Homo sapiens: one gene and its partner. The protein of the gene in region 2 purifies or fractionates together with the protein of the main gene of each other region. This does not show direct contact. Each region holds a gene or a part of one and is shown on either strand. Other genes may lie near its edges. The genes, in order: NGLY1 and CEACAM8.

The links.
Region 1: the proteins of CEACAM8 (region 2) and NGLY1 purify together in Homo sapiens (co-immunoprecipitation; 2 studies listed by BioGRID and IntAct, with this or other methods). This does not show direct contact.

Annotation. Positions count from the first base shown.
Region 1 is NC_000003.12:25,776,526-25,780,443, forward strand, and holds part of NGLY1 (peptide-N(4)-(N-acetyl-beta-glucosaminyl)asparagine amidase), read right to left. Parts: intron 2,164-3,918; coding exon 2,049-2,163; intron 1-2,048. UniProt on the Homo sapiens protein: Specifically deglycosylates the denatured form of N-linked glycoproteins in the cytoplasm and assists their proteasome-mediated degradation. Cleaves the beta-aspartyl-glucosamine (GlcNAc) of the glycan and the amide side chain of Asn, converting Asn to Asp.
Region 2 is NC_000019.10:42,593,244-42,597,161, forward strand, and holds the start of CEACAM8 (cell adhesion molecule CEACAM8 precursor), read right to left. Parts: upstream 1,682-3,918; 5' UTR 1,586-1,681; coding exon 1,522-1,585; intron 658-1,521; coding exon 298-657; intron 1-297. UniProt on the Homo sapiens protein: Cell surface glycoprotein that plays a role in cell adhesion in a calcium-independent manner. Mediates heterophilic cell adhesion with other carcinoembryonic antigen-related cell adhesion molecules, such as CEACAM6.

The DNA of each region.
Region 1 (3,918 bases), on a different chromosome or scaffold from region 2:
CTCTCCTTTGGGGTTGTAAACTCATATAGCCAACTGCTTACTTGGCTTCTCTACTTGAATATTTAACAGCAAATTGGTCACAATTGTCCAAAGACAGGTGTTAGTTTCTCCCCTAAAACCTGCTACTCTCCAAGGCTTCTCTATCTCAATTAATGATACTCCCATCCAATTAGTTGCTTAAACCAAAACATAGGTAAGTCCCCGATTCCTTCCTTTCCCTTATATCTTACATCTAAATCACCAGTAAGTCCTGTTGATTCTGTCACAAAAAGAAATCCTGGATCCATCTACTTCTCTCCATCTCCACCATCAGTACTTAATTCAACAAATCTTTATTGAGTACCTAACATCTGTAATGCACCAGCATTATTCCAGGAGCTAGCAACACAGGGAACAGAAATGACAAAAAACCCTGCCTTCATGGACTTTATACAAACCACTACCATTTCTTATTTAGACTAATGTAATAAGCTTTCTAACCGGTCTCCCTGCTTCATCCCTTGTCCCCATCCCACCACCTCCAGGAATTCTCTTTACAGCAAGCTAGAATAATCTTCAAAAATATTTTTCCCTACTTAAAACTTTCCAGGCTGGGCACGGCGGCTCACGCCTGTAATCCCAATACTTTGGGAGGCCAAGGCGGGCGGATCGCCTGAGGTCAAGAGTTCGAGACCAACCTGACCAACATGGAGAAATCCCATCTCTACTAAAAATACAAAATTAGCCAGGCGTGCTGTCGTATGCCTTTAATCCCAGCTACTCAGGAGGCTGAGGCAGGAGAATCGCTTGAATCCAGGAGGCGAAGGTTGTGGTAAGCTGAGATTGCATCACCGCACTCCAGCCTGGGCAACAAGAGCGAAACTCCATCTCAAAAAAAAAAAAAAAAAAAAAAATTCCCAGTGGCTTCTCATCTCACTTAAAATAAAGTCTAAGTCTTTTGCCACATTCCTCAAGACCCCATGTGTCCTGGTCTCTGCCTCCCTATGCAGCTTATTTCTGTTTCACGGTTACTTCTGCTGGAAATCCTTTACACACATTAATCCTTCTGCCTGAAACACTCTTACCTGAGAGTTTCAGGTACCTGAGATGTTTCAAGTCACAGCTCAAATGTCATCTCCTCAGAGAGGACTTCCCTGACCACTGCCTGCCATGCAAAGTACTTTTTATTCTATTACCTGGTCTTATTTTCTTCTTTGCACTCATCTTGTTTTCACATCTACTGGCTGTTTAACCTACTAGAATGTAAGCTCTATGTGAGGTGGGATTATATCTACTACTTTGTTCACTACTGTTACTTCAGGGCCTGAAATGGAACCTGGGGAGGGAAGCAGAGAGGCATGAAGAAAAGTGAATCTTACATAGCAGCTCAGCATATCTCTTTAACAACTTCTACAATTGCCTATTCTGACGACCACTGACTATTGAGTCTCTGTAACTTGTTCAAGTTCTTTCAATGCTCTACAAAGGAGAACTAGTTAAGGATATAAACATAAAGAAAATTCAGAATCTTAATAACTACTTTCGATGTGTCATAAAATTAAACTACACCACAAGATTCCAAAAGATAACACCAAAATATTCATTTGAAGTAAAAACAAAAAAAAATACTGAGACTCCTCTCCTGTCACAGAAGAAACCCCTTCTGTGTGGCAGCTCAACTCAGTTTTTCTGTTTACTTCAGACTCTTTTCATTTCCTACTACAGACAGGTAGCTAGACTCTATTAGTATTCATGTGTGCTCACAAATCAGGTTTTAGCTAAAAGCCTAAAGTGAACCACATTTGGTCCTTGGGTTGCATGTATGACCCTTATTTTAAAGAACTGAGACTCGTAAGAATTTCTCTGTGGAGCGTTGTTACATTTTACTGAAATTTTAAACTATACTTGTTGTGATTTTTAAATGTCCAATCAATGAAGAAATAACTACTTCTACTGATTCCCAAAATGATAAATTAAAAAACATTATCTTATTCAAACAATTATTCACCAACATGATAATGGCTGCTTTGTGCATGAAGAGGGGAGAGGAAATCCTTGAACATACTTACCTCTTCAAAGCCCATTTCAAATAAACATTCAACAGCTCCTCTGACAGGCAAGAGTCTAGTAGAAAAGGCTGTGTTTCCAATCCGGATGGATCTATATTTTTCATCATTAGGGTTTCTGACAAAAAACAAAAGTTTGATTATATATAAAAAAAACCAGGTCATAGTTCTTCAAAGACTTTACTTTCAACAAACATGACCTAGGTATACCTTTATAGTCACCTGATTTTCTTTCTTCCCTAAACCAATGGTTGTTTTTACTATAAGTAAAAACAGTAAATTACATTCTGTGCTGTTAAGGTACATTTTTTTTTTTTGAGATGGGGGGGGTCTCGCTTCAGTTTAAGATACATTCTTTTTTTTTTTTTTTTTTTTTTTTTTTGAGAGAGGGGTCTTGCTCTGTTTCCCAAGCTGGAGTGCAGTGGCGTGACCTCGGCTCACTACAGCCTCCACCTCCCAGGTTCAAGCAATTCTCCCACCTCAGCCTCCCAAGTAGCTAGGATTACAGGGGTGCACCACCACTCCTGGCTAATTTTGCATTTTTTAAGTAGAGACAGGGTTTCACCATGTCGACCAGGCTGGTCTCGAACTCTCGACCTCAGGTGATCCACCCGCCTCAGCCTCCCAAAGTGCTGGGGATTACAGGCGTGAGCCACCGCACCTGGCCCAAGACATATTCTTGACACAGACAGTATGGCAATAAAAGGAAGACATAAATTTCTTTTACCATAATTAAGATTTTGAATAGTACACTTGGGACAAGTAACCAGCACATGAAAAGTTTTGGTTTGAGATTTTTAATTACTTTGATAAATCAGAATTGTTTAAAAAAAATTAAAAGAATGTAAGGTTAAGCTAATCATAGTATTATATTCAAAAGACCCTCAGAACATAGTTTAGGATGATAAGTTTCATACCTGACACCAACTGCCTTAAAGTGATAGTGACTTCTTTAAGTACTATGTTAAGGAGGATTCTGAGGCAGTATCTGGGATCCATAGGAAGATGTACTTCCATAAGAAGCCACCTGCCCTGGGGTATGATATGGTGAGTAGGCAAATGCTAGCAAATGACTTATCAACTTTGTCCTATCTACACATGTTCTCTAGGTATTCTGACGTAAAAACAAAACCAAAAACCAAATATTTTAATTTTATAAGTTTTAACAAATTTTGCATTTGTTTTTCACCAGTCAATTGCCTATTGGCCAAAGTGTCATAAATACTAAATGAATGTTTTTAAACTTTTCCCTAATTTCAAAAATCATGTTTATTACAGAATATTCAGAGACAAATGCTCTATTTTTTTTGCTATTCAAAATGTCCACAGATTGGTGCTAATCTACAAATTATTTGTTACCCATACACAAGTAGTACAGAAATTTTTTCTTTGTTTGTTTACAAGTGCATAAAAATGAAGCAAGAAGTAGAGAAATTGAATGTTCGGTATACAGCAATTTGATATTGCCATGAAATTTTCAGTGTATTTTACAAAAGTTATAGGTCCATAAGGGATTGGAAATTAAAACAAAAACATTGTTCTTTACTATATGTAATTTGAGAATCACAGATGGTTGTGAAATACAAAGAAAATTTTATTCTCAACTCTTTATTCTGTGTATTAGATTAGGGTTTCTCAGTCTCAGCACCATTAACATGTGGGGCCTTTTCTCAGTGGAGTTTCCTTGTGCACTGCAGAACATTCGCATTCCTGGCTTCCATGCTACACTGTCTCACAAGTGAGCCTCTCTTTCTTATCACTTAAGAAAACTGAACTATAAAATAATCCTACATTTATCAAAGCTAGTTTTCGATAAATGGGGCATCTTTTCCTGACACTCAATGTATTTCACAGGGTGATAAACATGTCAGTA
Region 2 (3,918 bases):
TCAGGGTCAGGTCCATGGGGAGGGCACGGGGTGCCTGGCTGAGTCTGATCTCCTTCTGCTGAGTCCCCCCATCAGACTGTCATTCCTCTGCCGTGAGTGTCTGCAGGGTCTGGATGCAGGAAAGGAATTCTGGTCTGTGGAAGTCTGTCTCCCCTGAGTGTGTCCTGCACTAAATGTCCAAACCCTAAAGTGGGATGTAATGCAGAGAGGGACATGGGCACAGCCCAGGCCTAACAATCCTGTGTGTGGGAAGTAGAACTGACCCCCAACACCCAGAGGTCATGGGGAATCACTCACGATGTACGCTGAACTGGCCAGTTACTTCTTCACTCATAAGATTTAGCTTTATGACTTGTAGGGTGTAGGATCCTGTGTCATTTCTGGTGACGTTCCGCATCAGCAGGGATGCATTGGGGTATATTGTCTCTCGATTGCTGTATGCAGGCCCTGGGGTAATCTGTTGATTTGATATTACATATCCTATAATTCGACGGTTGGCATCCACTGTTTCCCCTTTGTACCAGTTGTAGCCACGAGGGTCCTGGGGCAGATTGTGGACAAGTAGAAGAACCTCCTTCCCCTCTGCAGCATTGGATGGCACAGCTTCAATAGTGAGCTGAGCAGTGGTGGGCGGGTTCCAGAAGGTGAAAAGTGAGGCTAGGAGGGGGAGAGAGCATCAAGCAATATTGCAACATATGTATTGGAGTAGAAAAATGGGGACATCAGCTTTGGAGTTTGTGTGTTTTTATGTGTGTGTATGTGTGTGTGTCCTACTGAGTCAATGTCAGCAGCACAGCCCCCATTTCTTCAACACCTCTGACCTTGGCATTTCCCTGGTGGAATCCTCTTCTTCAGGGTTCTGCACGGCTCCCTCCACACTGCCCTCAGATCCTGCTCACATCAGGGCATCCTTGGGAGACCCTTTCTCTGACACCTCCTCTAGAGACACTGGGTCTTCCCTTTCTGACCTTTCCCTGCTGTGTTCCTTCCAGGGCTCCTGTCAGCGCCTGACCTCACATTCTAGATCTCTTTGTCTGTCTTCCTCCCCAGGAGAGTGTGAGCTCTGTGAGGGCAGGGACTTGTGTGGTGTTGGCTGCACCCCAGTGCCTGGGACAGGCTTCAGACTCCTGTGGATGAGTTCCTGAGCATTCCCTGGGCCCTCTGCTTCCTGAGGCTTATTTGCCAATGTCTGACATTGTTGGCTGAGGACAATGTTTCATACCCTGGTTATGCTTTATTTGAAGTGTCATCTGGTATGGTTATTATTATCATTTTTCAAAATGTAGTGGCCAGTGATGATTAACCAGGAATATGGAACACTTGAGATGTTCCTGCCTCTTACCAATTCCAGTTCAATGTGATTTTCCTGTTGTGACCCCTTCCCCTCTCTTGTGTCCTCTCCTCTATTAAGGCTCCAACAGAAGTCCTCTGTCCCCTCTCAGAGCCCCGTCCTCCCCAGGAGACCCCAGCCAGTCACTGTGTTTCCTCCTCCTGTCCTTTCCCAGGAAGTCCTCTCCTCACCTGTGAGCAGGAGCCCCTGCCAGGGGATGCGCCATCTGCAGGAAGGGGCTGAGATGGGCCCCATGGTCTCTGCTGCCTGCGTGTTCTCCTCTGTGGAGATGAGCCTGGGATCCAGAAACTTTCTGAGCACGGCTGTCAGCTGTGCTGTCCTTCCTCCTTTTGTGCTGAGCCTCTTCCCGGGGCAGGAGCACTTCTCAGGCTCATGGGCGGGGTCTGTGCCCAGGACACCTCTCTGTCCCCTCCCCTCTCAGTCCTGCCTCCCTGTCCCTCCTTTCCCTTTATTTTCTGTCTGTGTTTCAGGCCCCTGGGAATTGCTGAGGTCTCTGACTCCTTCAGCAGTGATTCTCTCACCCAACCTCTGCACACACTATGCAGACACACACACACAGAGACACACACATACACAAAGAGACACACACAGTCACACATACACCCTGGAGACTGGGTGAGCACAGCCCTGTGCCCTCAGCATCCTGCAGCCTATGTCTCCAGGTCGGGGTGCACAGTCGCTCCCCCTGCCCTCTCCCATCCCCATCTGGCTCTTCCCTTCAGATCAGGAGGTCAGCGCTCCGCAAGGACCCTGTCACAGGGACACCACCACTGAGCTTTGGGGAGGTGTGTGCTCACTGGTGAGAGGGATCCTCCCCCTCTCTCATTGTGTCAAGCTTGGTTGCAGCTTCCAAGGATGGACATTCAATGCCCTGGATATCCCAGAGGGGACTGTCCTTACTGGTGGTGTGCAGGGCAAATAATCTCTTATGCCTCCTGAGAGAGAGGGCTGTTCTGGTTGGTCAGTGGGGGCTGTGGGCCTAGTGGTCATCAGGGACAGGTATCAGCCATTCTCTTGCTCTTTGGGTTCTGGCAGCTGAGCTGGGGCTCGGGCCTTCCATGTTCTCTCTGACCATCTTGGGTGTCCTCTGTTTTCGCCCGGCTGACTGTCCTGTGGTCACCCCACCTTCCCTATGGTTGGTGCAGCAGGAAGTGGGGAGTTGCCCAGGGGCCCCACAAGACAGTGCTCTCTGAGATCCAGGAGAGGGAGCCTGGGACAGAGCAGGGGCTCAGAGCTGGAGAGACTCATCCCAACTTACTCTGCAGCCAGGATGGGCTCAGCCCTCCCCATGCTGATATCCCCTGGGGTCTGTCCTAAGGGTTTGGACCTGGTCAGGCCCCTCTGTGTAGAGAAAGGATGGGCAGCGGCCGGGGAGCCCGTCTGGGGGGACGTTGCTCACACCTGAGAGGGCAGGTAGGGGTGGGCCATGTTCTGGGAACAAAGGGAGCTCATTCCTTGCCCCCCAGCTTGTGTACATGAGAGAGCGCTGTCCTCCCTCCTGGCTTCACGAAGGACAGCAGGGGGCAGGTGGCTACATCCCAGACAGTGCCTGGGCGTGACCATCACATACTCTCCGAGCCTCCTGGGGTGCAGAGGGAAGGTCATAGGGTGCCTGGCTGATTCCCCAGAGGCACTGTGGGCCCTCAGGCAGCTGTGGTTCTGTCAGCGCTGGGCTCAGCCTGCCATGCCGTAGAGAACAGGACACACGGAGCAGGGGCGGGTATTTAGGGAGCAGTCACAGAAAGAGTTGATGAGGATGGAGGGAGGTCACGAGGGGAAAGCGCCCAGTGTGGCATCCCGTGCACCAGCGCTGCCCTGGGAGATGCCTTAACTAGGCCCAGGGAAGGATTGGGTGTGTGGGGCAGGAGCTGCCTGCAGAGGGGGCGGCCTCATGTTGCCGGCTGCCTGGCTGCAGGGAGGAGCTGACAGAGTCCGTATGGGGAGCTTGGAGGGTAAGGAGGACGTGGGCCGAGGTGCCCTGGTGAGGGTGGACCCTGCTGGGCTGTGGGTTCCGCTGAGGGAGGTCAGCAGCCCCTGGGAAGGCTCCAGGCTGGAGGGACTCTGTCGCCCTCTGGTGGACTGGAAGGGAAGTGTGGGTGGCCGCAGTCCCAGGTCCGGCTGCGTGTTTTATTCCACATGGATCTGCACATTTCACACGAGGTCACCCACATGTTATGTCGAGCTCCATCACATTCCACATCCGTGTTTTTCTCTGTGGCTGATTCTCTGGTGTGATCTCTGAGCCTGTGTTAGTCCTCCTCACAATGGTCACAGCTGTGTGTGGAGATCTAATGGGGTGTGTGTGGCTCATGTGCTCACACAGAGTGTCCTGGGGTCAGGCTTTATGACCTACCCTGCCCCAACTCCACAACAAGATCTGAATAATGCGCCAAGTAAGATAAAGTCAGAATCCATGGGGGAGGGTGAGAGTCCTGGCAGTGCTGAGGTCTGTGTCTCCAGCTTAACTCTCAGTCTCTTTGCAAATACATTTATGTTGTGCATCTGCAGTTGGCTGGGCAGTTTCATGTCTCTGAATCCTTGAATCTCTCTGTGGATAAGGTCATGTA